Linked DNA regions of Homo sapiens: region 2 is linked to region 1. Evidence: fine-mapped expression QTL. A gene starts in region 1. The other region holds a variant in brackets. All regions are shown on one strand. Distances are between the middles of the regions.

Region 1 (16,038 bases):
GTTATGAAAAACTAAATATATATAAAAACTAAATATATAAAAAACTCTCCAACCTTCTCATTTTCCATATTCCAGAGATAATTAATTTACCTCTTTTAGTTGATTTTTCTGGTATTTATGTCCCTATCTACATAATATGACTTTATTACTGCTTCTAGATTTTTCAGTTTTTAGTTATTATCTATTGGCTTCCCATTATAGAAGGATTTTAGTTAACTTTCAGCTCCCTGTCTTTGCTCTCTGCATGCCCCTACATTTCTCCTTCCACTATCGTATCACATATAATTTTGGTTAATCAATATTAAGAAGTTATAAATGCTATTCAGAGATAAGCCATGTAGTATATTAGCATTACTTTCCTTTTTCTTTCAGTTTTTTTTGTTTTCATTGAGCTGGTAATTCTCTCCTTTTTGTTACTGGTTATCCTTCCTTGTTAGGAATAGACTCCCACAAAGGCCCCATCATGGGAAGTTTTCTGTATGCTCCTTTCCATTCTCTGCATATTGGTGATTTTCTTTTTCCACATTATTCTAAGCAACTTTTCTTGTTGATGACTGACGGCACAAAAAATTTCTGACATTTGTTTTTAGGTTTTCAACTTTTGTTAGGGAAGCTGAAACATTTACTTTCATTATAATACTATATCAAATCCATATTCAATGCAGGGATATCTGTTATCAATACGTAAAATCAAGAGAACATAATCTTGTTACAGAATGGTTGGTGCCTTAAGACCTTTCTTGCACACTTAAACATTTGTTAAGAGGGTATATTTCATGTTGTTTTGTTATTACAACAAAATTTTTAAAAGAGGACCTTTCTCAAGCAGTTGTGGAATAAATCAGGTCTAAAGTATGTTCAACAGTGGTATGATTAACACTTATGTAAAAGCAAAAAAAAAAAAAAAAAACACAACAGGATTATCAAGCAATCTTCTGAAACCTCTGTCCCTATCATGTCATTAAGATGTTGCTCAATTACCAAAAGAATACAATCTCATGCACAGATATTTGTGTGGTCACTCTGCATGTATCACTAATTCAATACCAAACTCCCCCAACCCTGATTGGTTTCATAAATTTCCTCTCTAATACAGTCAGTTCTATCAATTTCATCTACATTAAAAAAACCCCTTCAGACCAGTACTGCCGAACAGAACTTTCTACAGTGATATTAATAAAAATGTTCTATCTATGTATTGTCCAGTACAACAGCTTCTGGTCATGTGACTACTGAGCACCTGAAATGTGGCTAGTGGGACTGAAGTTTTATTAATTAGCTAATTTGATGTAAATGGCTACATGTAATTACTGGCTACCATCTCCAACTTTTGACCTGCTGCTTTCTAGTTGCTGCCTTAATATAGCTCCACTCATCTGGAAACTCTTTCTCCTCTGATCTGTTTTCTTGGATCTTATGCCTTCAGCTATCTTGCTTTAGTCCCTCATTTTGGTGAAGCATATTATTCAGTTGCTTCCAAAAGTGCATGGGAAATACACTTTGAGACCTTTCATATATGAAAACATCTTCATTCTACTCTCACTTAATTGACAATATGGTTGGACATAGAAGTTATCCTTCAGAATCCTGAAAGCACTGCTGCTCTGCCTTCTTAGTTCTAGTAATACCGTTGAGCTGACCTAAACCTTTGAAAAATTCTTAATCTACTTTCTCTTTTTCTCAATGTTTGAGAATTTTCTTTGTTCCCAACACTCTAAAACTTTACTATGTTGTTGGTGTAGATCTATTTTCATCCATTGTACTAGACAACTTTTTAAATCTGGCAACTTCAGTTCTGGGAATTCTTGAATTATTTATTATTTATATCTATACCTCTATTTCTGTTCTATTTTCCAAAATTCCTAACTTTTAATGTTGGATTTTTGGACTAGTCCTCTAATTTTGTTGTCCTTTCTGATTTATCACTTTTATCTTATTTTACTTTCTAGAATGTTCAACTAACCATTCTATTGAGTTTTGTCATTTCTACTACCAAAATTTAAATGTCTAGGCTTTTTTGTAGTTGAGGATTTTTTTATTTTATGTTTTTTGAGACAGAGTTTCGCTCTTGTCGCCCAGGCTGGAGTGCAGTGGTGCCATCTTAGCTCACTGCAACCTCTGCCTCCCAGGTTCAAGCAATTCTCCTGCCTCAGCCTCCTAAGTAGCTGGGACTACAGGTGTGCATAACCATGCCTGGCTAATTTTTGTACATATATATATATATATATTTTTTTTTTTTCAGTAGAGACAGGGTTTCACCATGTTGGCCAGGTTGGTCTCGAACTCCTGACCTCAGGTGATCTGCCTGCCTTGGCCTCCCAAAGTGTTAGTATTACAGGTGTAAGTCACCACACCTGGCCATGTACTTGAATATTTTTTAATAGCATCCTATGAAGTCAAGAGGTCAATATCTTTTATACTTTGATATGAAGAGAAGTTCATATCAAATTAAAGACTTTATACAAATGTCTAGTGATCTTTAGCTGTCCACTCCTATTTAAGAGAGAAACACTAAAAATCTAGTTGAAAGCACTGTGCCTACAGGTGGAGTTGTCAATCATTGCTTTACTGTAAGGTCTGGTTAGGTTACTTTGTTGGCAAATCTCAGTATCTTGAAATCTCTTCCTTTGGGCTACTCAAACTCCCCACAAAGAAATTCTTCTAAAGGATATAAGACTAAGTCCCCAAATTTTGAAAGCTAGTGGAAGAAACTCAGTGTGCAAACTTTTGCTTAATCTATTTGCAGTATCACAATCCCACTAATTGTGTCTGGTATTCCCCAGTACAAACAGTTTACTTTCTCTAGAGAACTTACCTCCAATCTTTCCCAGAGTTAGGAAGAGGCAGTCCATAAAGCTGGGACACTCTCAGATCTATCTCCTTTTAAAAACAGACTTTCAATTAATCTTTTTTCTAAGCTCAACTTTTATCCTTATTTTCAGGGGTCCCTGGTGCCTCCAATTACTATGGCTTTAAATAAATTGTGTCATTTCTCAGGTTTTCTTGCTTATGTTTAGAATGTAGCTTTCTAGGTTTTACTAAGTCAGGTACTACCTCTCCATTTGTATTCCTGCTTCTAAAATGTTATTCTTAGCTCCTGTCTCCTGCTTCTTTATGCCTTTATAGGTATATGTATGTGTGCGTGTGTGTTTAATCTCTTTACTTAATGCCATGTTAGTCAGAGTTTTGGAGGCAGCGGAAGCAAATGCATGTGTTTAGTGTGCCATCTTTCTCAAAAAGTCCAGGTGTTTTTCCTACACTTAGAGATCCTCAAAGAAAATGTTTTCAGAATTTTTACTGGCAACATAAGCATTTTCATAAAGTTTCAGAAGAGCATCATGTCAAAGCTTGAAGATACTTCTCTGTTAAGGCTCTACCTCACACAATCACATCCACAGTTAATTAAGTCTGGTAGAATTGTCAAATACATAACCACAGAAAGAGAGTAAGCAAGTTTAAAAGTAAAATGAGGTACTATAATATCTAGATAAAGATTGGTTTTAAAATAGAACAAAATAATCCAACAGAATGAGGTATCTAAAATTATATCTTCTTAATAGTTACCTGTCATGTTCAAAAACTTTCTGCAATCCCCCAAAGCACTTGTTGCTGGAAATCTGCTTCAATGCCATTCTTTTCCTATTAGTAAAGAGTAATCTCATTAATTTCCAGAGAATTAGTTACTGAAAAACTTGAAACAAAACTAATTGCCTTCAGATAAATTATCTGAACATACAACTATTTTCTACTTAGAATTTTTTTTTCACATTTTTCTCCAGTAAATAATATTAAGAAACTGATTAACGCTCATACATGCATTTACACTTGTTACTCACTTTTAAAAGCTTTCATACTTTGGTATATCATTACTAATTTATTAACAAGTTTTTTCGTTGTGGTGGACTGCCCCAAATTATTTTTAAAAGAGGCAGAAAATACATAAGTTACCAATTAATTACCTTAGTTTAGAAGATTAAAAATTGTTAATAGTCTGCCTATCAACTGCAACAAAGTAGTCAAGGAATTGGTATGACTGATTATAGTTGATTTTAAAATGGAAGAAAGATGTGATAATGATTTTGGTAATAATAATATGTAACATTACTGAACACTTACGGTGTGATACACATTTTTCTAGACACTAAACCAGATCCAATTACTCATCCCATGAATTTTTAAGAGAAAGTGATATGAAACTTTAAGATCAACATTTATTTCTCCTTTTAAAACAAACCAATAAGTAAAACAAGCCTGTTAACTTCTTTTCTGTCCAACAAATCTTTTGTTTTCATGTAAAAATAATTTTAAACTTACATGTAAAATGACATATTTTATTGCTTTTAATGATAAATACAGGAAAAAAGTTGGAAAACTATCTTTATCATAAATGCCTATTAAGCAAAGGGAAACCACACTGATTCTGACATGTACCTCTCAAAGAAAGATTCCCTTTCTATTCCTAGAAACACTGTATTAGAATATAAGGCAGTAAGTCCTACATATTGAAGAAAAAGCTTTAGATATCAGGAACAGGTATTACCACCCTGGTGATCTTCTCAGAGAAATGCACTACTACATGCTAATCAGCTGGAGCTTTAGGATTACTCTTTCAAAGATGTATAACAATAATCTTAAAAAGCTAATTTTGGAAATGTCTTTATAAAATACTTTAAAAAATTAGTTTCAATCTTATCTCTAATTTCTTCAATAAACCCAAATAGTTTTATTTTGGAAGACTGGGATTTGAACCCAGAAGTCTGACATCAGAAGCCCTACTCTTAACTGCTATGCTGTCCTGACTCTCTAGAGGTTCTTTAAATACTCATTTTTTAAGACACTTTAAGATAACTGATTCTATAGAATTATGATATTACAACTGTACACAAAGAAATTACCATCTGCTCAGTTTTATGCTTTTAATCTATAAAAGATTAATTCTTAAACAATAAACTCCCATGAGATGTTATTAGTTACTGAATATTAACTTTAGCTACTGTTAACAATCCTATCTTAAATAATGAACTTATAGAGAGAGATACTAATTTTAATATATTAATACATATATATGAGACCAACAAATAAAATTTATTTGCTCCATTATTCCACAAGGAAACCAGATTTTCTTAAACTTAGAAAGGACTATATCCACTTTGCAAAAGATGGTACACTGAGCACGTATCTGGTACATAGGAGTCTGTATCTTTGCTATTCGTCTATTTTAATAAACCTCAAGTTGTCAGTTTTCTCTGCTCTTAAAATTCAAAATCAAATGCTTTTCATTTGGCCAGAAGAAACAAGATTAAAACACTTTTTAAAAGTTGGTAGAATATTTTTTAAAAAACAAAGCTTTTAAAGTATTTTTTCTACCCACCATTTTAGAAACTATCTTTAATTACAAATCAAAAAAATATGTTAGGCTTAACAAGAAATATGACATAAACTAAGAACTAGATATGACATACTGTGATATACTATGATATCTGATACATTATAATAGGTGGTTATATTTTTCAATAGAATTTTTCTATGTGAAAAATAGCACGTTTTAAAACAAGCTATTAGTGGTATTTTCATTCAATGTTCAGAGTAACATATAAACAATAAAACAAGTTTACCTGTCCAATTGCTGATTGCTTTTTGCTTGCACCAAATGGTAGGCGATTCTGAAAAAAACACCAATGGTTTACAAATGGGATATACTTTTCACAGCAAAGGTTATACAGAGCTTTTATATGCATATGCATTCTCAATAGAGATGTTTTCTTCTTTTGAGGTAAATGACTGTACACCCTGATGGGATACCACATCACCACTTAATTACCTTAATTGCCCATAATCTAATTATTTGCCACAGGCCACCTTAATACCTATTTTGCCATAAAGCTTGTTGGTACTTGGTCAAAACCATCTGCTGAAGTAAAAGTACTATGAAAGTTTTTTATCTTTTTAAATCAATAAACAAAGTTTTCAAGTGTAATTTCGAAGCATGAGATGTAGTCAACTCCTGAGTGAAGAAAATAAGAGTGGGGACTAGGTAAGTAGAGGAAGATGGATCTATCTGGCTCAGTTGTAAGTCGAACTTGTAACATGGGGAGAAAGAAGGGAAGAGATGAGGACTGAAGGACTACTACTAGGGTGACTAGAAAGGATGTATAAGAAAAGTGGGCTTATGAACGATGAAGTGACTGATATTCAGTAAGAAAAATATATATGGAAACTTACATAGTATATATCATGTCACTTATCTGGTAGATTTCATTTAGGCTCTAGAACAAATATATATTTAGGTTCTAGAACAGATTTTGTGGGAGAAATAGGGTGACAGAGTAGGGTGGAATACCAAAAAACCAAACAACACCCTTCCTCCTTCCCCTCCAAAAAACAACAACAACAACAACAACAACAAAAACAGAAAAACAATTTCACAGTGCCAGTGGGAGTTACACAATTTTTCCCAAATGTTAGTGAACATCAACATTCTTTGGAGAAGAAAGGGTCTCTCAGTGCATAATACATCCATTCCCCTAAAGGTCAAACCTTACTGTTCTTCCCTTTATTTTTTATTTTTTGGAGATGGGGTCTTGGCTGTGTGGCCCAGGTTGTAGTACAGTTGCATAATCATGACTCAGTGTAACCTAGAACTCCAAGCTTCAAGTGTTCTCCTACCTCAGCCTCCTGAGCAGCTAGGACTACAGGTGCGTACCACACTGGAATATTTTTTTTTTTAATTTTTTGTAGAGACAGGGCCCTTTACTTATTAAAGTTAAATGTCATCCACCTCCAGAAATCTGAGTTCTATTTTTATCCTTCTTCCCCTGTGTCTCAAGTTTTCCATAAATCTCTACATGTGTTTTTTTGTTCCCATTCTCTCAGATTCCTTGGATTTTGATGTTTCTTCATTTCCAGGATGTCCTATTCCACTGGCTCTTAACAACCTAGACAGGTGTTCCCAAAACCAACAATCTACAGTTCCAATAACTGCTGTTGACCACCACTGTGTTGTTCAAATCCTCTTCTCAGTGAAAACTCAGGATCTGGCTTCTTCCCTTTCACTCTGTCTCCTCCCACCTCCCTTTTCTTTTTTCTTCACACTCTTTCCCTAAACCTCATTCCCTAAATTTCAACTACATTTTCTGGGTGAAATAATCTAAATCTGCATCTCTATAACCAATCTTTCTCAAGCATTAGTACCCATAATGACATTTCTTGCTGGACTCTTCTACCAAGACATGTCACCAGCTATTAAAACTTACCACACCTAAAATTAAGCTTCTGCATCTCACCTTCAAACCATTCCTCTTTTCATTGCCTCTCTTTTTCAGACTCATGCCTGTCTTGCCTAATCTACATTTGAGATGCCTCAAAGTTACCTTCTTTTTGAATTCCCACTGCCATCATCCTAATTATATATAAGAAATTAAAACTTAGCCTCTTCCTTTCTTCCTAATACATCCCACTACGATCAATCCTGCATGAAAGCCTAGGGTTTTAATCCACTTAATTTACTGGTCAACGGATCCCTACCAACAGCTCATCTGCAGCCTAATACGGCCTACGTGGAATTGTTAGTCATTTTTATTTAGTATTTTAAAAACTGTGATAAAAACACATACATAATATTTACTATCTTAACCATTCCTAAGTGTGTATTTCAGTAGTGTTAAGTATCCATTAGTCATATGTAAAAACGCAGTTCGCCAGCTCACAATAATGAGCAGATGAGAACTGCCTCATCACCCCCTGGCTGCTGCAGGTGGAGACTACTAATCCCTTTCGCTGTTAGGCCAGTCGCTGAGAACCAGAAAGTCACTGAAATGGAAGACCATGTTAATTGTACAATTTTCTTCAAGTTTAATGCCATTAAAATTTCATAAAATTAAAACCATGCAGGATCACTGAAAAAATAGATGAATAAAACTCCATATAAACTTCAGTCACACTCTACCTGTGTGCAAACACAGTCTTTTTTTTCTTCTTTTTTTTTTTTTTGAGACAGGGTCAAACTCTGTGGCCCAGATTGGAGTGCAGTGGCCTGATCTCGGCTCACTGCAATCATCTCGGCCCCCGGGCTCAGGTGATCCTCCCGCCTCAGCCTCTGGAGTAGTTGGGACCACAGGTGGCACCACCATGCCCAGGTAATTTTTTGTAGAGGAGGTTTTGCCATGCTGCCTAGGCTGGGTCTCTTTTCCTTCATAAAAATTCACATGGCTTGCCTAGGTAAGGATTTCTATTAAACTCTGGGGAAAATTTTTTAAAAAAAATATAGCATCTATAAACGCCAAACACCTTCACATGGCTCTAAATATGGTCTATAATTTGGTCCCAGATTATTTTTCTGGTCTCACTCCCTATTTTGTTAGTTAAACTCAACTATGCATAATTCTAGGATGGCCTGGATGTTGCTATCGGGTGGCTTTACTCAATGCCACGGTACAATGGTTTCAGAGCAGGTTTTGGGGCCAGACCCTCCGGGTTCAAACCCTGACTTCACCACTTATTACTACATGACACTGGGCAAGCTAATCTATGCCTCATTTGCCCATCTGCAAAATGGGTATACAGTAATATATATCAATTTGATAGGGTTGCTCTGGGAATTAAATGAGTTAATTCACGTAGTGCTTAAAATGCTGCTTCTACCACACACACAAACATGAGCTATTATTTTTCCTGCAACCTGAATGCCCTCTCCTTCCAGGTGCGCTCAATCCCATTTCCCTAATGACCCCATCAGAAATGACTTCCAGTCCCCCACAGCGCTCTGAGAGCATTTTACGACCCGAACAGATTTTGTCAAACTCCAAAGACACGTGCTCCCCTCGGCACCATCAGGTGAGTGCTCCTGACCGCGCCATTGGCTCGTGCCCCGACGCGGACGCTGCCTAGAGCAGCAGGTCCACACTCCCCCGAACCAGGCGCCGGCGGCCGCTAGTAACGCGTTGAGGCCAGCTCCCTCCTTAAAATGCGTACACATCTACTTCACATTTTCGCGCGGTGGCTGCGGGTCTAGGAAAGTCTTTCTGAACAGGAAAAAGCTGTACAAATGTAGCGGGCAGTAGGTAAACGGGCGCTCGCCCCGGGTTACACTAGGTTGGAGGCTCAGAGAAGGAAAAGGGATTAGAGGCGAGGCTCCGGGTCACGGGAAAAGGTCCTTGGCCTCCTGTCATGGATGGTGGCGCCCAAGGCCCAGGGTCGCCGTCTCTGCGCTCGTGCCTGCGGATACCTGCACCGCAGGACTCGGCGTCCGCCCCGATCACGCCTAGCCGTGCCGCAGCCGCAGGAAGGCTGACAACGTCCAGGCCTCTACCCGAACCCAGTCTTACCTACGGTGGCGGAGTGACCAGAAGAAGCGGGCCGAAGTAAAAGGCGGGGCTCAAGATGGCCGCCGGGGCCTCGCCTCAGCCCCGCCCATATGATGCCCCGCCCCTCCGGTCCCACTCACTCTCGCTTTTAACTCCGAGAACCCGCTCTTCTCCAGTTCAGTCTCCATGGCCCCGCCGCCTTTGCACATTGCACTTCCCGGCAGCCTCCGCGTGGGCGCCCCCTCCAACTCCTGCCTTCGCCCGCGTTTCTGCTCTGTGTGGTTACTAGGACCAACGAGGAGGGCGTTAGGTTAGTCCCTGTCACCTTGTCGGGGATCAGTCTGCTGTGCGTGCTCAGACTCTTCCCAGAGCCAGCAGCAAGAACCCGAGGCATTAATAAACTTGAGATGTAGCTTCGCTTAACTCGTGCAGAGGGTTTCCGTGTCACTTATGTAGAAACTAGGGCCTAATTTCAACTCCCTCAACTCCTCTGTCCCAAGACTATCCACGTCACCTACTTGGTAGCTTGAGTTAAACAAGAAACCTTTGAAATCTCCAGTGGCCGACACGCAGTGGGAACTCCATCAGTTTTCTGTTTTCTCCCTTCTTCCCTCAATAAAAATTAAGTTGAACTGACTAAGATTTGCTAGTTGATAATTTACAGCAAATCTTTCCTTTTGGTCTCTCTGATTTAAGCAAACTGTTGAGTGTACTTTGCCTCTTGAGAAATTAAATCTGATTACAACAGAGCTAAGTATTTTTCAGCAACGGTTAGACTGACATTGTAAATACACAATCTGATAGTTGGGGCTGGCCTCATGGGCCTGCAACCTGTGCTATTACCCGGCCCCCAGAACAGAAGGACGCTACATTTTCTCTCAGTAAGTGTTGAACCAGGGCCCCACGTTTGTGTCTGGAATTGGGCCCTGCAAATTGTGTAGCTATGGGAGCTGACTTAAGTATGGATGAGCTGCCACACAAGAGATTACCTGCCAGAATCTATTGTGTGGCTCAGGCCCATTTTGCCATAGTGATCTTTGGACTAAATTAACCTGTGGACTGAACCTGTGGATCAATTGGAACTTAGACTGAAAATAATGTTTCATCAAAATAATGTTTTTATTTTGAGAAAGCATTGAAGTAAATTGTTTTAAACTTTCTTTTTACTATCTTTAAGTATAAATCATTGAAAAGGGGATTTTCTTCAGTTTCAAAACTGAAACAGAATAAATACCTAAATTGCAAGTTCTTTATAACTGATGTTTGAACAAAGAGAAATAATTGATTAAATGATATATTTGCCTAATAAGTGGACTGCTGTGAGGTGCAGACTAGCCAAAGAACTGTAAGTGTGAAGTTCTTTACTAAAGGGTTCTTGTGTGAATACAATGTGAGAATAAGCAGAACTAAAATTTCTTTTACCCAGCATAAATAAAATGTTAATAGATCCACAAAAGTCGATTGCTTAAAAATATTAAGAATATATATAATTATCATTATTATTTGGACATGGAAGCAAAGAAGGCTGAAATCAGAAATTAAGGTTGACATTTTAAAAAATGGCACTACCAATAAAAATGGATGAATATTAAGTACACAAAGAAATAGTCCAAAAATTATGTGTAAATGTGTGGCTGAGAGGATATAGGACTCTTGGTTTGAACTAAAATGAGTAGGAATATAATCTTAAGGAGGCAATAAAGGGATGCAATAAAAATGAGAAAAAGTCAAATATACTTGAAGCCTGTAAGAAAAGAGATTGTTTTAGTCAGTTCCAGCTTAACAGAAATTTATTCCTCACCATTCTAAAAGTCTGGGAAGTCCAAGATCAAGGTGCTGATGAAATCTGTTCCTGCTGAGAGCCCTTTTCCTCGTTTGCAGAGGAATACCTTCTTGCTGTAGTCTCACTTGGTGGGTGGGGTGAGGAGAGCTCTGGTTCCTTCATCTTATTGTAAGGGCACTAGTCCCATTCACATGGACTCCACCATCATGGTGTAATTATCTTCCAAAGTCTCCATCTCCAAATACCATCACGTTAAGGATTTAGGGTTCAATGTTTGAATTCTGGGGAACACAAACATTCAATCCATAGCAAAGATAGTTTTAGAGAGACTAGAAAAGACACCATACATAGAAAATAATATAATCTCTTGGGTATCAAATATGCTACTTGAGAAGTGTCCTTGTGGCTTTTCCACAGACTAGAACAGGGTTTCTCAACCTCGGCACTGTTGACATTTGGGGCCAGATGATTCTTTGTCGTGGAGGCCTACCCTGTGCATTGTAGGATGTTTCGTAACATCCCTGGCCTCCACTAGCTAGATGCCAGTGGTACCCCTAACAAGCTTAGATACCCAAAACGTCTCTAGACATTGCCAAATGTCCATGGAAGGAGGGGTTGGTGTAGAGGAGGGCTGCAAAATTGCCCCTAGTTAAGAACCACTGGCCTAGATAAACATTTTTCAAAATTCCCTTTATTTTGATTCTATTCTTATCTAGTGACATTTTGGAAAATAATAGGCTCCATTGTTATTTAATAAATCAGAACTTAGGTTAAAAATGCTTTAGTCTCTGGTGAGTGTAGCTGAGATGATACATTTTCCCAAAGACTTACCATCTCTGAGCATGATACTCACCTTACAGAATTGAGTTTCTGAATGTGTACTCTGAGGACCAGACTTTGGATCATGGGAACTGAACCAAGTACCGGAAACTTATAGCCCTGTGCCACTGTTCCATCTTGACTTTGTTATCTTAAGTTCTAACTGCAGAGTACAATACAACAAGTACAGACAAGCCTTTCAGTCTCACATTCATATTAGCAAATGTCCAAATTTCACATATTTCAATTTTATTTATTTATTTATTTAAGATAGGGTCTTACTCTGTCACCCAGGCTGGAGTGCAATGGCGCAATCATAGTTCATTACAACCTCAAACTCCTGGGCTCAAGTGATCCTACTGCCTCAGCCTCCTGAGTAGCTGGCACTACAGGCGTGTGCTAGCATGCCCAGCTAATTTTTGTATTTTTAGTAGAAATGGGATCTTGCTATGTTGCCCAGGCTGGTCTTGAACTCTTGAGCTCAAGTGATCCTCCCACTTCAGCCTCCCAAAGTGCTGGGATTATAGGCATGAGCCGTTGCACCCAGCTGCATCTGGCCTCAATTCCATTTACTTTTTTTTTTTAATTCTTAAATCCTAAAAGCTATATTTCTTTTTCATCACACATTCAAAAAAATCAAGAGTTAGTGTGTGATTGTACAGAGCTAGACTTTTGTGTTAGCCATTATTGTTATTTTTGTTAGCATGAGAACTAAAACTATAGATTTTTTCCTGTTCAAAGTGACTCCTATTCTTTTATCACCTTTTGCTCAATTACAGTACTGTTAAGTTTCTTAACATTCTACATATTTGTTGAGCCACAGTTTGTCAGTTTATTCATAATTTTTAAAGTTCCATTGATAGCTTATTAGAAACAAAATGAACTCTGGCTATCTGTTAATCATTGGCATGTATGAAAACTGACAAAAGGCCAGTTCACTAACTGTTTTGGTTAATGCTTATAAATCTCCTTTGGTGTAAGATTAGTATTTTGCTAGTGAGACTACCTATGCTTTCATGATCCTTTTCTCAATAATGCCAACTATTTCTTTAGGTCATTTCTAAAATGCCTCCTAGTCACTTACACATTCCCCAGCATAGCTTAAACATGCTTCTATAATTATTTGTAAACATGGAGAGTGAAGTAAAATAAACTATTTCATAGACAATGAGGCAACTAAAAAATTCTGAGATTACCATTATAACCATGGCTGGGATTTTGCTAAAGGAAACTAAGAATTTAGAAGAAAATTGGGGTTTTATGTATCCTCCAAAAGTCAGTAGCTCTAGATATTATATCATTATCTTTTTAGGCTGAGAACTAGGACAGCTTCCTTGGTTATGAAGAATCAGCTGTTAGGTAGAAATCCCCGCAGATATGCCATCTTGGCCTTATTGCAAGGACCATTATATCCACAAGTCACCCCAAATTTCCCTTTCTGTTTGCCTCCCTATATGAAAACAATTTAGAAATTCCATTTTCTTTTTCCCATGTCCTCCCTCCAGCTCTCTCTCTCAATAGACAGATAAATGGATCTATCTATCTATCTATCTATCTATCTATCTATCTATCTATCTATCTACAGTCATGAGTTGCTTTATGACAGGGATGTGTTCTGAGAAATGCATTGATAGCTGATTCTGTCACTATGGGAATATCACAGGGTATACTTACACAAACCTAGATGGTATAGCCTTCTACCCACCTAGGCTACATGGTATAGTCTGTTGCTCCTAGGCTATAAACCTGTACAGCATGTTACTGTACTAAATACTCTTGGCAACTGTTACACAATGGTGTTTGTGTATCTAAACACAGCTAAATACAGAAAAGGTAGAGTAAACATGCAGTATTACAATCTTATGGGACCACTGTAGTGTATATAATAAGTTATTGACCAAAACATTGTAATGCAGCCCATGGCTGCATCTGTACACACACATGCTCAAAATATTACTGTTAAGAAACACTTGCTATGTGCCAGGCACTATGAATGAAGATGACATTATTACCAAGTTATCCCTCCAGGTTCATGAGCTACAGCTCCCTCATAATTCCATCCTATGCTGAAGCTGTATCAAGCTACTTCCCTCCTAATTATAATCTAAACACCCCATGCTCTTATACCATCATGATTTTGCACATGCTGTTCCTTTTGCCTATCCCACAACACACTTCTCACCATGCACAATTTACCTTACAAACTTACATGTTTTTCAGTTCCCAGCTCAAATGCACATTCCCCAAGGAAACTTTTTGAACTGCTTAGATAAAGCTAAGCACTCTTCAGTGCACCTTTAGCCCTTGTACAGCCACACCTCTATTGTGGCACCTAACATTGCATTGCAATTTTGAATATAAGTAAGTTTCTGAAAGGCAGGAGCTGAGTCATATCCTAGCTCTAATACTTGCAAATCGTAGGCACACAAGTGGCTTTAGAATTCATGAAAGGTTACTATGGTCTGGGTATTTGTGTCTCTCCAAAATTCATATGTGGAAATTTAATCTCTAATGTGTTGGTGTTAAGAGGTGGGGCCTTTTAGAAGTGATGAAGTGATGATAGTGGATCCCTCATGAATGGGATAAGCACTCTTATAACAGAAGCCCTTAACCGACACTGAATCTGCTGATGTCTTGATCTGAGACTTTCTAACATCCAGAACTGTGAGCAGTAAATTTCTGTTGTTTATAAATTATCTAGTCTAAGGTATTTTGGTATAGCAGCCCAGTATGACTAAGACAAAGGTTTAGTAATTATCATGTTTTCAGGATTGAAATACGTTTTTTTATTGTTTATAGAATGCAGAAGTAAATTTTTATTTTCTTTCCATAAAAGAACATAAAGGAAACAAAAGCTTAGCATATAACAGTGATGCTATCCATTTGTTAGATGGTTAACATTTTTGACAGATTATGAAATCAACATTTAAAAATATCCCTTTTGAGTTATTCAACAAAGCTGGACGCAAACATCCTTGTTTAAATTGCTAACATTATTCTCTTGTACTTTTTCCCCTAATTGCAAATTTGTTTTTACATTTCTCAGTTTAATTGATTTTCTCACAGACACATGTACTCAGTCTATTCATAGAAACATTTTCCTTAGGTTTGCATACTAATTTATTTCATAACCCAAAATAAAGTTGTTTTACAGTTTTGAAATAAAGCAATTTGCCCTTTTAATTTACAGATTAAATACTGCTTTAAATATTAAATCATAAAACGATTTTTTTGGAGGGAAGTGATGTTCTAGTTACCTACTGCTTTGTAACTAGCCACACCAGAACTTAGTGGCTTAAAGTGGCAATTGATTATTATCTCTCATGGGTCCAGGGGCTGACAGGCTTAGCTGGTGCATCTCATTTGTGGTTCTTCATCTAGTTGAAGTCAGATGGTTGGAGGTTGAATTGCTGATAGCTTCTTCAGTTTCCTATCTGGTGCCTGGGCTGGAATGGCGGGAACAACTGGAGGCTGCTGGAGCACCTTCTCTCCACCTGGCTAGCTTGGATTTCCTCACAGCATGGTAGTCTCAGGGTAGTTGGACTTCCTACATTAGGTCTGGCTGCCCCCTATCAAGCATTGCAAGAAGCCCCGGCAGAAGCTGCAACACTTCTTATGACATAGTGGGTAGGGAAAACTCTCTCTGTTTTTCCTCTACTCTCACACCACAGCAGTTGTCAACACAGAAGTCTTCTGTGACCAAATGTGTGGGTTTTGTTCCCCACACACCAAGCAGCAGACACCAGCTGGGTATCCTCTAATTTGGTTCTAACACTATCTACCTGGAGATAGTGTCAGAACCCACCGTCGCAAGTCTAGGCCTCCAGAACTTTTGACCTACCTGCTTCAAGTTGGGATCCCCATGACCTCCTCTTTGGGTTCAATTAATTTGCTGGAGTGGCTCCCAGAACTCAGGAAAACACTTACTAATGTTTACCGTTTTTTAATGAAAGACATTGCAAAGGATACAAATGAAGAGACACATAGGGTGAGGTATGGGGGAAGGGGTTAGGAGCTTCCATGCTCTCCCTGGGTGAGCCATCCTCTAGGAACTTCCACGTGTTCAGCTATCCGCAAGCCCACGAAACCCTATCCTCCTGGGCTTTTATGGACACTTCATGACTTCAGCATTTC
Region 2 (16,038 bases), 29 kb before region 1:
CATTTAAAGGCAGTGAGCAACATATTGGTACTTGTGAGTCATAAAATGGGGCAAGGTGGGGATGAGACTGGGGAGGAATAGCGGATAGGCTGCCGCTTTCCAATGTGACTAGGAATGCCAAAGTAAATAAAATGGGGTACTTGGCCAATAAACTCTCCTAACAACTTGCTATAGGTTAGATATGGTTTGTTTGGTTCTACCAAGTTTCATGTTGAAATTTCATCCCAGCGCTGGAGGTGGAGCATAGTGGGAGGTGTTTGGATCATGGGAGTGGGTTTCTCATGAATGGCTTGGTGCCATTCTGCCAGGAGTGAGTTCTCACTCTTAGTTCCTGTCACAATTGGTTGTTGAAAAGAGGCTGGCACCTTCCCCCTCTCTCTTGCTTTCACTCTTGGCATGTGATCTCTGCACACAGGCTCCCCTTCACCTTCCACCATAAGTGGAAGCAGCTTGAAGCCCTCACCAGCAGCAGATGCTGACATCATGCTTCATGTAGAACCCCGAGCCAAGTAAACCTCCTTTCTTTATAAATCACCCAGCCTCAGGTATTCCTTTATAACAATGCACACAGACTAAGACACAACTATCGCTTTTCTCTGAGAAAAAAAGGCCAGGCACAGTTTCTCATGCTTATAATCCCAGCACTTTGGGAGACTGAGGGTGATGGATCACTTGAGCCTAGGAGTTTGAGACCAGCCTGAGCAACATGGCAAAACCCCTCCTCTACAAAAACAAACAAACAAAACATACAAAAATTAGCAGGGGCATGGTGGCTCGTGCTGTAGTCCCAGATAGCTGGTGACTACAGCAAGACTGTCTCCAAAAAAAAAAAAAAAAAAAAAAAAAAAATTTGCTGTCCTCTAAGTTGATTTCCACATAGACATCTGCTACAGTCACAAAAGCCAGAGGAAGGGGAAGGGGAGAAGACATGTCTACTGCCTTGGAAGACTCCACACAGCCTCTAGTTAGACTGAATGTGTAGGTGGTGAGGTAACAGAACTCCTTGCCACATAATTTTATTGCTTAACTGGGCAGAACTCTGCTTGAATATTGACTTTGTGCCGTTGGCTTCTTTTCCTGCTTCCTGCTTCAGCTCTTCCAAAGTGTTGTCTCAAATCTCGTTCAGTCTGTCCCCAGCTTGCCTCTTAATTTACAAGGAAAATGAGGGCCTCAGCAGTGAAGTGTCAACTTATTTCCTGTCTTGGAGGAGTAGATGGCACTTCTCCCTCCCAAGGTTAGATGCCAACTCCACAGCCTTGGGAGATTTTATGTTATTTGTTCTCTCTCTCTCTCTTTGTCTCTTGATCTCCTCCTCCACCCTCTCCTCTCCACCTATAGTTTAATTATTCAGCCACAAATTCAAACATTACCAGGCTATAAGAAAGATACTTTTCTTGACTTCATCTTTTCCCTCAAAATACTGTCTAGTTTCTCCTCTCCCTGTTAAGTTCTTTAAAGAGTATTCTATAAGCAATGCTGGAGTGTAAACTTAGAAAGAATAGAGGTCTTGGTTTTGTTTACTACCATATCCTCAAGGCTTAGAACATGGCCTGATATATAATAGGTGCTTGATGAATATTTGTTGAATAAATGAATGGACAAATGCCTTCATTTCTTCTTCTAACCATACCACTTCATTGAAAATACTTTTTGGTCATGGGTCCCACATCTCAGTTGCCAGATCCAATGGCCTCTTTTCAGTCCTTGTTCTATTTGACCTTCCTGTGGCATATGAGATCATTGAAAACTTGCTTCTTGAAAGCCAGTTCTCTCTTAGTACAATTTTTATCTCAATGTTTTTATTTTTCCATCTTCTTCATAGGCTTCTGTTTCTGTGCCCAACCCCTGCCCTCCTGGAAATGAAATGCTTGGCACTCTTCCATCCATGCTGAAGATCTCTGGTGGTGTCCACCAGCCTAGGTAACTTATAACTCTGTATATCTTCACAATGCTAGGTCCATTCTGGGTATCTTCACTTGGATGTCCTATGGGTCCTGCAAATATGTTTAAAATTGACCTCCCTCTGCACCTCCCCAAACTCCTTCTTTATATGCGTTTCCCGGTTCAGTGATTTCATCATCTTCCCAGCCTCCCAAGCTAGACACTGCAGGATGACCACTGATGTGTTCCTGTCCTTTTCAGTCTGTCACTAAGCCCCGCAGATCCTCCCTCAGAAACATCTCTCAGCCCCAGCCTCTCCTCTTTCTCCCTGCTACCTTAGCGCCTGCCCTGATCAGCTCACCCTGGGTAAGTGGTCAATGGCTCATTTGTCACCTTGTCTCCCTCCTCTTCTTCCTCCCTTCTCTGCTGCTACAATAATATTTAGAAAAAGCAAGTCTTATCATGTCTCTTCCCTACTGGAAACATATTCAGCACTTTACTATTACTCACACAATTGATTTTGGTGCTATGCTTGCCCTTCCCAGACTGTTTCCGTCCTACTGCTAACACCCTCTGCTGCAGCCACTCCAGTCTCCTCTTTCCAGGTGCTCCCATGTCTTTGTTCCCTGTGCTACGCCTGCTCCTTGGAATACCCGCTCACCTCTTCTTGACTTTATGAAGTGCTACTGAGCCTTCAAGACTTACGGACAATGTCTCCTTTTTGGTGAGTTTTTTCCCCATCCCCTCCAGATTATTTCTTTCACCTTGGCACCCCTGAAAAAATAATCTGTGTCTGCTTTATGTTCATTTCTCAATAAACCTCTTTTATCGAGCTCGTATTAGACAAATAATAATTTCAATGGGGAAAGAGCATGAAAAGACCCCACAATAGTTCATTTTTCTTACAGGAATCTAAATAAGGGAAGTCATGGATATAAGTGATGAGGAAAACTAAATACAATACCCAATGCTTATCGAGTGGTGTGATGGTTGATTTTAGGTGTTAACTTGACTCGATTAAGGGAGGCCCAGATAACTGGTAAAGCATAATTTCTGGGTGTGTCTGTGAGGCTGCCTCCAGGAGGAGACTGGCATTTGGGTCAGTGAACTGAGTAAACAAAACCTGCCCTCACCAATGAGGGCGGGCACCACCCAATCGGCCAAGGGCTCAGATAGAACAGAAAGGCAGAGGAAAGGTGAATTCTCTGTTTCTCCTGAAGCTGGGGCACTGGCTTCTCCTGTTCTCCTGAACTGCAGGTTCTCCAGCCCTCTGCTAGAACTAGGATAGAAGGAGCGCCAACATAACATCCTTTTACACACATAAGTAAAAGAGAGAAAATGACAATAGGAACTACATGACAATTGGACCCCAAGACTTGCACCTGCAGTCCCCCAGGTTCCCAGTCTCCGGCGTCAGACTGAGAGTGACACCACTGGCTTCCCTGCTTCTCAGGCCTTCAGACTTGGATTGAGCCACACTACCAGCTCCTCTGGTTCTCCAGCTCTCAGATGGCATATCGTGGAACTCCTCAGCCTCCATAATCACATGAGCCAATCTCTCTAACAAATCCCCTGTCATCCATCTCTCTCTCTATATATATCCTATTGATCTTGTTTCTCTGGAGAACCCTGACTAATATGAGTGGCTACTACCTAATTGGCACTGTTCAGGAGGTGTACAAGTAGCAATGCCTGTACATCTTACAAGAACCCTGTGAGATAACATCTACAATCATCCCCATCTCACAGGGAGGTCAGTTGTTCAAGGTCCCATGAATACTAAGTGGCGTAGTTGGGATTCAACTCCTGGAGTTTGTCTTAGAACCCACACTTTTAACGATTATGCTATAACATCTTCCTCTATTTACCAAGTCACTGACCAAATATCTAATAATTAAAAAAAGATGAGTAAATAGCTCAAGGCTTTACTTGGGTTGTTTCATTTGATCCTCTATGACCCTAGGATGTAGGTCCTATTGTCATTATCTCTCTTTTACTTATGTGTGTAAACGATGTTATGGTTATAGCAGAGGTCCCAAAATAATGGGCGCTCTGTTCCACCACCTTCCAAAAACAAGGTGCTTGTTCATCGCAAAGAGGATGCAAATCCCACTTCTGTCCAACAGGCTCTATGAAGAATACAAGAAGAGGTGAGGAGGCCAGAAACTTTCAGAGAAAGATGTTGGAATGCTGTGCATTTGCCCACCTTCCCCTCCCCTGGGAACGAGGAGGGCAGAAGAGAAGAGGTGGGCAAATGCACAGCCTGTGGGGTGGCAGGGCAAAGAGACCAGGCGGGAGGACACAGGTTTCTCCAGATGTGGGCCCTGCAAAAGGGAGCTGCTACCTAAGGCTGCCTTGAACTGTACTGGACAGGAACTTTTTTTTTTTTTTTTTGAGTTGGAGTCTTGCTCTGTTACTCAGGCTGGTACGATCTCAGCTCACTGCAACCTCTGCCTCCCGGGTTCAAGTGATTCTCCTGCCTCAGCCTCCCCAGTAGCTGGGATTACAGCCGTGCACCACCACACCCAGCTAATTTTTGTATTTTCAGTGGAGACGGTTTCACCATGTTGGCCAGGCTGGTGTCAAACTCCTGACCTCAAGTGATCCACCTGCCTTGGCCTCCCAAAGTGCTGGGATTACAGGTGTGAACCACCACACCCGGCCTGGAGAGCACTTCTTGAGGGCTGGATGAAAACAACTGTGACTGCAGCAGAAAGGTTGAGGGAGGATTCGAATGGTGACAAAGCCCTTAGCCTGGTCTTTTTGCCATGATCCAGGTCAGAATGATTACGTAAGGCTGGAATATTTGCAGGATCGTCTTAGAATTCATGCTTGAAAATCAAACAATCATTCCAACATCTGGGATAGCCTCTCTGCATTACGTAGCATGATATGGGCTGGAATATTTTATTTTTATTTTTGAGACAGGGTCTTTTTTTGTTACCCAGGCTGGAGTGCAGTTGTGCAGTCATGGCTCACTGCAGCCTTGATCTCCTGGGCTCAAGCAATCCTCCCACCTCAACCTCCTAGGCAGCTGGGACTATAGGCACACACGACCATACCCAGCTAATTTTTTTTTTCTTCTATTTTTTGTAGAGACAGTGTCTCATGGTTACCCAGGCTGGTCTCAAACTCCTGTTTAAGCAACCCTCCTACCTTAGCCTCCCAAAGTGCTGGGATTGCAGTTGTGAGCCACTGAGCCCGGCCTATTTTACATTTAAAGCAGGGCATGTTCTGTCGTCTGTCAGGTCTTATTTGAATATAACTAAGAAAATGGGTGATTTGCTATTCATCCTAGAAAACTTTTTAAGAGTGCACGGTATATTTATTGTGCTTCTCCTAAAAGAAACACTGGGTGGCAGTGTTTTTACTCAAATGTTTTCAGAAGAGACCCAAAAGGAAAAGGCTTTCCTCTTTAAGGAATATTAATCCCATTGAACCAGCAATGACTAATAAGGCAATCTGCCTTCAATCAACCACGTGAACAGCCTGGGGTCAATATTACAACTCTAAATGCAGGGTTTAAATGCACACACACACACACACACACACACACACACACACACACACACACACACACACAAAATAATACACCCCAAAACCAGAATGCCCAAAATAATATCTAGGATAAATTGGAAAAAAAAAAGTCCCTTGCCTCACCCACTTCCCAGCTCCATGCCTCATTTTTAGGGGTATTTGAATTTTTCTAATAAGCCCAATAAGATGAAAATGTTACTTTATTTGGTTGAGTATACTATTATCATCCAACAAAGAAAGTGCTAGAACTCTATTTTCTTTATGTACTATCACCAGAAAGTGAAGCTCATTAAGTGTCGTTAGAGACAGAAGCTGCCACCTGGTGCCAAAGAGACACAAATGAAATCGAAAATTCACTGGTCATGGATTGGAATCCCAGAGTTGGGCCAAATACAACAACAAATAAAAAAATATATATCTGATAAGCAAAAGACATTTTCTCTTGGACTAGCAGGGCTATGAAAGGATGAGAAATTTACAAACTATGTTCTCTCTTCGAGGAAAATATTTTATTTCTATAGCCAACCATTCTTTGTACTGGCAGAGTAGAAACTAATAGCGCAATAGATAATCTGTGTGTTGGTGCTCACAATGTTGTCTCCTCTCACTTAAAAAGTTGTGGTTTAAAAAGTAAGCTTAAAAAGAAATTTGGGAGGCACATTTGCCACACACACCCATACTATATGACTTTTAATTTATAATTGTATACATTAGCATACCAATATGCTATGTATATTATAAGGCATGCACAAAAATAGAAATTTTAACAGGAGATGATGAAATAAAAATAAATATAGACAGAAGCTCTAATCCTGTCCATTGGATGGTCTTGTGCACCCCTGAAGGACGGCACGGGTCACTTTGAAGTTCAATGGCCCTAATGCATCTAGTCACTAACATCTGGATAAGATGACAGAGATTTCATGTGGGTATCTTGTCTTGCTACACAGCCCTGGGAGTTAGTGTAGGGGTTTTTGTTTATTTACTCTGCTTTCCAGTGAGGAATTGGCCTTTGAAAGATGCAATGACTGGCCTGAAGTACCTTTGGGAGGCAGGACCTTACAAGGGTTTCTTCTCCTGAAAGTCTCATTATTCACACAGTCAGCTATGTTAATTCTATTTTTTTTTTTTAATTCCAATGTGTTTTTGAACCAGAACTTAAGTTCTCAGAAATACAAAGTAAGAAGCATGAAAATGTGTTTCTGGACCTTGGCACAGATGAGTGTAAGCACTGTTCTTTCTGATTTTCAACATTTATTAGTGTTTAAAATTAGTATTTTACAACTGAAAATATACATGAATAACTTTTTCTGTAAAAATGATATAATCCACCAAAAATAAAGCTTTTCTGGCTGTTATTTTCAACTCTGGTGCCCTCCTCCTCTTTCCCAGAAGTAACTCATTATTTCCATTCAGAACTTTTCCCATGAAATATATTTGTACCTATAGCAAAATACATATTGTTTTGATGGCTTGTGAAAATGTAAACAGTGTCAAATTTTTCACCAACTTACTTTGATTCTTAAATATTTGGGGTTGTTTTCGTATTTATTACAAACAAGGCTGCAATGCATGCCTTTACACAGGCCTCCTTTTGTATATCTTTCTCCACAAAGCTACTGAAAAATAATTTGGCAGCACCATTTACAGAAAGGCTCATGTTTTCCTCACTGATTTGAGACATTGCTATTAACATACGCTAAATTTCTGTGTGGGTCTGTGGCAGGACTTTTCTGATGGGATGAACTCTTCTGAGTCCAAACCCGTTTTAATTATCACAGCTTTATAATGTCTTGACAACTGGCAGAGCAATTTGTTCTCTCTCAAGCCGTCTTGGCATATTCTTCCATATAAATTTTATAATTAGCTTGTCAAGCTCCATGAACAACTTTGAGATTTTGATTAAGATTATATTGCATTTGTAGATTAATCTGGGGTATGTTTGTAGCTTTACAATATTGAGAGTTTTATTCCATGAATATGATATTGCTTTCCATTTAAGACTTACTTTATTT[G/A]CTAGAGGTATTATACAATTCTGGTTTGAGTTCTTTCTAGGTAGTTTTTTGTTGCTGCTGTGAATAGGATCATTTTAAAATAATTTTTATTAAACATAGACTTATAGAAAAATCACTAATTTTGAGACAGTTATATTGTTTCTAGCCACTTTACGAAACTCTTACTGGTTCTAACACTTTGTCCTCCATTTCGACTGTAGTGGATGCCTCTTTTGTCATGGTCCCCTGTGCTGCTGTGGCCATCGCTGCATCTTTACTTCCCCCCACCACCCCCCCGGCAACCTCTGCCAATGTCTTCTTAGCTACTGCTGTTGCCATCCCCATCACTGGAACACCAACAGTGACATTTCCTTTCTTCATCCGAAACCCCAATTCTTCAGATTACTTGGAGGCTAGGCTTCAAAAATGAAAGCTTAAAAAAAAATCTGGCTGTTTTAATTTTAAAGTGGCTTTCATTGCAGAAGGTCGATAAAACAATGTAATCTGTTACATACTGTATATACCCAGTGTGCCTAAATACAAGACAACCTTGAACATGAGAGGATCTGCATTTTTCTTTTTCTTTTTTTTTATTTTTTGAGATGGAGTCTCGCTCTGTCACCTAGGCTGGAGTGCAGTGGCACGATCTTGGCTCACTGCAACCTCTGCCTCCCGGGTTCAAGCGATTCTTCTGCCTCAGCCTCCTGAGTGGTTGGGATAACAGGTGCACGCCATGATGCCAGGCTAATTTTTGTATTTTTAGTAGAGATGGGGTTTCACCACGTTGGCCAGGCTGGTCTCAAACTCCTGACCTTGTGATCCACCTGCCTCAGCCTCCCAAAGTGCTGGGATTACAGGTGTGAGCCACTGCGCCTGGCCTGGATCTGCATTTTTCTAATGATAACATCCAAAACTTTGGCTAATTCGAATACATTTATACATTTTTAAATATATAATTCATGCCTACTTGTCACAGATTTTATATGTATACTTTAAAAATACTTGAGATATGTCAGCTTGGAAATATTAAATATTCTGTTGTAAGATTTTATGACATGGTTTTATCTAAACTCATTTGCATCGTCAATATCAGTAACATCACTACAGCCATTTTTTTCTGGGGGAGGGGGCAGATAGAGTCTCAGTCCGTTGCTGGAGTGCGGTGGTGCAATCTCAGCTCACTGCAACCTCTGCCTCCCAGGTTCCAACGATTCTCCTGCCTCAGTCTCCTGAGTAGCTGGGATTAAAGGCACCTGCCACCACACCTGGCTAATTTTTGCATTTTTAGTAGAGATGGGGTTTTGCCATGTTGGCCAGGCTGGTCTCAAACTCCTGACCTCAAGTGGTCCACCCACCTCGGCCTGCCAAAGTGCTGGGATAACAGATGTGAGCCACCACGCCTGGCCTACAGCCACTTTTTGCAGCAACTTTTCACATCACCTTCACTTCTAAGTGGTTTGAGATACAATATTACTTGAATTGATAAACGATGTAGCCACTGGAAATTGTATCCCCCAAGATAAGTATTCTTTGCAATAACATCAGGATTTTTAAATTCTTCATGCAGTAGTATATTTATGATCTTCACAGCATAACTACTTAATATACTTTTAATGTAAACCTTATTAAAGTATAACACATATTAAAAAGTTTATAAATCCTAAGTGTATGGCCTGATGAATTTTCAGTGAACATGCTCATGTACCAAGCACCTGGATGAAGATAGCATCACCAGTACTCTCTCCTGCCATGCTCCAATCACCTCTCCCTCAGAATGCCCCCCACCACCCCCTTCCATTGCCTTGCTATGTGTAACACCTCCTGTCTTCAATACTATGCATATAAAATGGTACCAAGTTATTATATAGCACATAATTTGGTGTCAGGATTCTTTCTTCCAGATTATGATTGAGACCCCATCCATGTTGCTGCATCCAGTTATAGTGTGTTTATTTTTATTCATGTAGAATATTTCATTGTATGAATATGCTCCAATTTTACTAATTCTGTTATAGATGGATTCAGGTTATTTCTAGATTTTGGCCATTGTAAATGGTGCTGCTGTAAACATTCTCATGTAGCCATAATGTTCCTGTTAAGTACAGAAACATGCATTGAAAGGCTATAGGAGACGTGCTAAGTAAGGTCTGAGGCCTCATCAGACCTTACCAGTTTGCTAAGGTTGAACTAGACCTTAGCAGATCCTGCCAGATTGCACCTTATTAGCAGTATAATTCAGGTCGCCATGTTTCCTTGTCAACACCTGGGATTTTCCATTGTCTGAACTTTAGCCATTCAGGTGGGTGTGTAGGTTCATTGCATTGTAGTTTTTATTCGTATTTCCCCAGTCTTACTAAGCACATTTTCAGGCATTCATTAGCCATATTTGTCCTATTTTGTTAAGTACAAATTTTTTGCCAAATTTTATGTTTTTAAGAATTTGTGAGAGTTCTTCAGGCATTCTAGATACAAGTTATTTGTCAGATATATGTGTTGCAAGCATCTCCATCTACTTTGTGGCTTGTCCTTTTACTCTTCATGGTGGTGGCTTTACAGTATTACGTTTCTTCAAGAACATAATCTTCACAAGGGTCTTACATTGAACATAATCCAGGAAATGTCAGATTCCTTTACCTCCTTTTATACCTGATTGTCAGGTGACTTCTAGAAACACCCTAAACAAGCATTGGGAGTTAATGTTTAGGTTATGTATTGTTAACTATGTCACTGAGATGGAACCTTACAATATGAGAGACATTAAGATTGAACTCTTTCTAGTTGGGGAAACTCATGTTACATTTAGGCATTGATAAGGACTCATCCCTCCCCAGGCCAGCATTTGTGGCACAAAAAAGCAAGCTCAAATGTATTGGTTTATTATCCTCAACAGTCATTTCTGTTTTAACTAAAGGTCTTTGTCTTTACTAACATTAGCTGTTCATCAGCAATTACTTAATGAATATTTAAATGTTTTGCATTTACGTGTAAAAAAGCAAAGCAACTATTTTCTAACAATGATACACTAACTAACTTAGCTGTTTGTTACAGTCCCCTGTTATTCAAATACTAATCTAGGTGTTGCTATGAAGGAATTTTGCAGATAAAGTCCCTAATCAACTGACTTTAAAGAGGAGAGACAATCCAGTGGACCTCACTTAATCAGAAGGCCTTAAAAGCAAGACTGAGGCCTCACCAGGAGAGAAGAAATTCCTCCTGTGTACAACAGCTTGAGCCCATGCCCAGAGTCCGTCCTGCTTGTGCCTGTCCCTTCCTGACTGCTGCTCTATGGATTTTGGACTTGCTTAGCCAGCCCTCATAATCAGGTATGCCAATTCCTTGTTTTTTTTTTTTTTTTTATATATATATATTTATTATACTTTTAAGTTCTAGGGTACATGTGCACAACGCGCAGGTTTGTTACATATGTATACATGTACCATGTTGGTGTGCTGCACCCATTAACTCGTCATTTAGCATTAGGTATGTCTCCTAATGCTATCCCTCCCCCCTCCCCCCTCCCCCCACCCCACAACAGGCCTCAGTGTGTGATGTTCCCCTTCCTGTGTCCAAGTGTTCCCATTGTTCAATTCCCACCTGTGAGTGAGAACATGCGGTGTTTGGTTTTTTGTCCTTGAGATAGTTTGCCGAGAATGACGGTTTCCAGCTTCATCCATGTCCCTACAAAGGACATGAACTCATCCTTTTTTATGACTGCATAGTATTCCATAGTGTATATGTGCCACATTTTCTTAATCCAGGTATGCCAATTCCTCGTTTTTTAAAAAAAATCTTAATGTATATATCTCCTACTAGTTTTGCTTCCCTGGTTTAAACCTCAACCTCAATGATCTTAGGGACAATTGTTTTTCTTCACAAATAAATTACCAGCATGTAAAACGTTCATGAATGATCTTATTAGAAGACACAAGACTGTTTAAATGAGAACCATTCTGTGTACAGCTCATTCAAGGGCTCAACCTTGACTACTGATGTTTAAATAATACTAATTTTATAACTTTAGGAACTTAATGTCATTTTCTTCAGTTACCATAATATGCATTCCTACTGAATGTTTAAAATTTATTTTTTAACAGAAAAAAATATATTTTTAAAGCAGCCAGGTTTTACTGGCTTCTATCATGTTTTACTGGCTTTTATCACATTTCAAAAAGTTTGTCTATTAAAAGTTCTTAAAGGAAAACAATTGGGTATTTACAGAGATATTACTTTTCTTGGTGAGCTCACCAAGTTAAATCTCTGCTTGCAACTATGGGAAAATATTCATGTTTACAGTAACATATGAAACTAATACGTTTCCTTATTTAGCCATTTTCAGATTGAATCTTATTTAATTCTTGAGAACCTTAATACACCCAAAAACCAATGTTCACAAATATATTAGACTCAATAGGTAAGAAAAGAAAATCTGTCTTCTAATATCCCACAAATAGCTGTGTAACGATGGGGAATTCATTTAACCTTTCTGAGCCTACCTCTTTATTCTGTAGCTAACAGTTATTAAATATCCACTAGAAATCAAGTGGATATTTGCTTTCTAGACACTTGCTAGACACTAGAGATACAACAATGAACATGACAAAGACAGTCCAATGTCTTCAGAGGCTTAAAGTCTGGAAAGGTGAGGAGTCTGGGCTAAATTACTTTTAAGTCTTCTGTTCCAGAGTTGCTACTCTATACTTCAAATAGGATTACATTCATATTCTATGACCTGGGATTAATACAAGAATTTCCAAACGACACTGAAAAAGCTATAGAGCATTAAAGATTTCCTATGTGAACACTTGTAAAATAACTTTTAAAATCAGAAGTAGGTTTTATATCTTTATTCAGAGGTGATTCAACTATAGAATAAAGCCCTTTTAGCACTATAAAATCCAATGTTTTGAATTTTTTTTTTTTTTGCTCAGCAATACAGTTGCATTTTACAACTTTTATAATCCTGAAGAGATTCTCTTATTTGGAGTTTTTTCATGCATTCAGGTATTTAGCATGATGTCTGATGTGGTCAGTAATAAAGGTTGCAATGAAGTAGTAGCTATGATCATAACCCTAGAAGATAAAGAGATGATAAGACATTTATCTACCATTCAGGAACATCAGTATTAGGAACATTAAATATATCTCTAAGGTCGTTTAATTTGCTTACAAATAGTCATAACATTAAGGAAGTATGAGGAAGGTTTATAATAAAATCAAGGTTGTCATCCTTGTACTTTAACATTTTCACTGTACATTAAAAGAGCAGCAAAAATGTGAAGGAAAACTAAACATTCTGCCTAGCTTCTAAACATAGCCTAACTTCTAAATGCTGCCATTAATATGTAAAGAGTGGAAGTAACACATTAATTAAATATGCAGAGTAGACATGTCATATCAACACTGTAGAGTGCATTAAATATGCAGAGTAGACACTGTCATTGAAAATGACACTATCAATTGACAGTGTCAGTTGATATGACACTGTCATATCAACCAAGATGAAAAGAATCAGGATTTAGAGATCTTAGAAACATGGGCAAGACATTTCAATTCACAAATGCAGCACATCAGTAAGACAGTGACTATTAAAACACAAAATAAGCACACAAACAATATAGAAAAAGAACATAAAAATGCCCAAATGTTCTATCATTGTTGGGAAGTCAAACACAGCCATCATAAATCCTGTTAACAATTCCTCCTACACAGTAAAAGCATGTTGTATCTTTATGTGAGGGGAAATATGTCATTAAGGCCTGACATCCCTTAGCAAATTAGGTAAAAAGTCAGTAATCCTTTGGAAAACTAACATGAAACAGAGAAAAATGCAATGTGCTAAGCAGTTAAGTTGAAAGAGATTTCTATCTATCCAGTCATTTAAAACCATTGTTGTAGGTAAATGGAGAAATAATCCCTTTCTGCTGACTCTGACACTTCTTCTGAATATAAAAAATAGTCTTCCAAAAAAAAAATAATTACAATAAGGTATTAACGCATTTTCCTTCTTTTTTTGTTGTTCAACTTTTAAGTTCAGGAGTACATGTGCTGGATATGCAGTTACATAAGTAAACGTGTGCCATGGTGGTTTGCTGCTCAGATCAAGCCATCACCTAGGTATTAAGCCGAGCATCCATCAGCTGTTCTTCCTGATGCTTTCCCCAACTCCCATCGCCCTTTGGCAGGCCCCAGTGTGGGTTGTTCCCCTCCATATATCCATGTGTTCTCACCATTCAGCTCCTGCTTATAAGTGAGAGCATGTGGTGTTTGGTCTTTTTTTTTTTTGAGACGGAGTCTCACTCTGTCACCCATGCTGGAGTGCATGATCTTGGCTCACTGCAACCTCCACATCCCGGGTTCAAGCGATTCTCCTGCCTCAGCCTCCCGACTAGCTGGGACTACAGGTGCATGCCACCATGCCCAGCTAATTTTTTGTATTTTTAGTAGAGACGGGGTTTCGCCATGTTAGCCAGGATGGTCTCGATCTCCTGACCTTGTGATCCGTCCACCTTAGCCTCCCAAAGTGCTGGGATTACAGGCGTGAGCCACTGCGCCTGGCCTGGTGTTTGGTTTTCTATTCCTGCATTAGTTTGTTGAGGATAATGGCTTCCAACTCCATCCATGTCCCTGCAAAGGACATGATCTCATTCCTTTTTATGGCTGTACAGTATTCCATGGTGCATATGTACCACATTTTCTTTATTTAGTCTATCACCGATGGGTACTTGGGTTGATTCCATGTCTTTGCTATTGAATAGTATTGAATAGTACTGTAGTGAACATATGTGTGCTTGTATCTTTATAACAGAATGATTTATATTCCTTTGGGTATACACCTAGTAATAGGATTGCTGGGTCAAATGGCATTTCTGCCTCTAGGTCTGCGGAATCACCACACTATCTTCTACAATGGTTAAACTAATTTACACTCCAGGTGGGAAGAACTTTCTAAGGGTATCAAACACCAGATAATTTATCCCTATCTACAATTAAAATACAAGGTTGAATAAACCGAAAGAAATGAAAGTCTAACAAAGATTTTGTTTTTCCCATTTTGAACTAGTGAATGGTCACTGATGGGAAAAGATGGGAATTTTTCTAAGCACCTAAGAAATAAAAATAGAGCTAATAAAAATATCACTGACGCTTCAGAGAACAAGGAAATCCCCAAGGTTTTGATGAATCAGTAAATGTTCTCAATCTCTCCCTTCCAGAGAGGTATTAAATGTTTATCTTGGGAACAGCTGTTAATAAAAAGTTCTAGTTTAAGGTCAAGGTAACTTAAGTCTTCTAAAGCAATCTGTCTTCTATCATGGAAGTGAATGTGACAGGAATGTTGTCAAGATTAAAGCTGAGCCTCGGAATTACTTGGTGTCATGTCTCTCAATGATTAGACTAGTCCCAGCTGGCTAGTTGAATTTAGAGCTAAATTACAGTTTCCTATATAAAGAAAGAAATGTAAAGAAAAACATTTTCCATCCATATAATTCTTGAATTGTTAAGAAGTTAAACAGGCCTGGAGTTTTAGGCCACCAAACCTGTAAAATGTACCAAGTATTATCTGCCATTTTTCACAGATCAAAAGATGGATCTGATAGAAAATGGGTACAGATGCAGGGAAACAGATATCTCAAAAGACTTGTGTGACCAAGTTCCAATGTGACTGAGTATGCCATATTTTTATCCTTAGTTTCTTGTGTGTTAAGAGCCATCAGACACATATGAATAGCCATCATTATTATTAGAGAAGTCCCAAGGTAAACCCAGGAATATATTGCAAGACAAGACATCTAAAATCCAAAACAAATGACCATAAGTTCCATAATGATAAAGATTCACCTATATGAGAAAGAAGAAAATGCCTGCCATTGAGGGCCCAAGAATTTTAAAAAATGTCAACAAAAAGGCAATAGAATACATTTGAACAATTGGTATCCTGCTGAAGTTACACAATTCGAGCTAATTGTATCATCCCTGACGAGGGTTTCTATTTATCAGTCTTATTAAATGGGGATGGCTTCTTTAATTAAATTCTTTGATGAATGAGTTGGTATGATATGTTAAGCAGCTTGTGCAAATGCCTATGTTTAGTGACACTTGAAGGGGACTTTTCTCCTCTACCTCACACTTTAAATGGAAAATCCTTGGTAGCAAAACTCTTGACTCCTGGAGTATAAAAATAAATGAACACCTTTCATTCTTTCATTCTTCACTCAGCTCTCAAAAAGGGAGCAGTGCTCCAGCAGCTATGATGGATGTTTATCCTAACAGGCAGTGTTTTCTTATATATTTTCCAGACCCAATTAGAAAAGCTTGGATAAGAATCCCCAGGTTATTAAATCTCTTCAGTGTATAAGGAGGAAGACTTTGCACTGTATTCATTTAACAAGTATTGAGAGTCTCTGTGCTAGATACCTATGCTAAATAAGCATGGGATACAGAGATGAATGAGAGAGCTCTACATTTCTGGGATTCTCTGCCATGTTCTTACTCTTCTCTAGCAGGCAGATGCAGAGGCTAAAACAGCCTCTCAATCTTCAAAAAGGTCCTGAGACTTAAGGAGGTAGTATAGCCTCTCCTTCTATTCCACAAAAAGAGATTACTATTTCTGGAAACTTCTTCACAGTAT

Direction of the effects. Positions count from the first base shown, and alleles are read on the strand shown. Sizes are in standard deviations (SD) of each study's normalised expression.
In carriers of allele A in region 2, the expression in amygdala of the gene that starts at base 9,380 in region 1 tends to be higher than with G alone (small effect, 0.29 SD a copy in GTEx).

What was found. PIP is the estimated chance that this variant, and not a neighbour inherited with it, causes the effect.
Region 2: its variant is fine-mapped to the expression of ESD in amygdala (GTEx, PIP above 0.99).

What each region holds. Positions count from the first base shown.
Region 1 is chr13:46,787,782-46,803,819 of GRCh38, forward strand. It overlaps ESD (esterase D), which reads right to left and starts at 9,380. Exons shown (of 10, transcript NM_001984.2): 1 at 9,324-9,380; 2 at 5,616-5,663; 3 at 3,565-3,639. The coding sequence starts at 3,632. RefSeq lists enhancers at 8,515-9,116, 9,248-9,297 and a silencer at 8,888-8,937.
Region 2 is chr13:46,759,015-46,775,052 of GRCh38, forward strand. ESD (esterase D) reads right to left here. Exons shown (of 10, transcript NM_001984.2): 10 at 12,242-12,482. The coding sequence ends at 12,402. LOC107984563 (a long non-coding RNA gene) reads left to right here and starts at 1,144. Exons shown (of 3, transcript XR_001749983.2): 1 at 1,144-1,234; 2 at 1,823-1,920; 3 at 2,487-2,618. The variant G/A (reference allele first, on the strand shown) is at 7,434.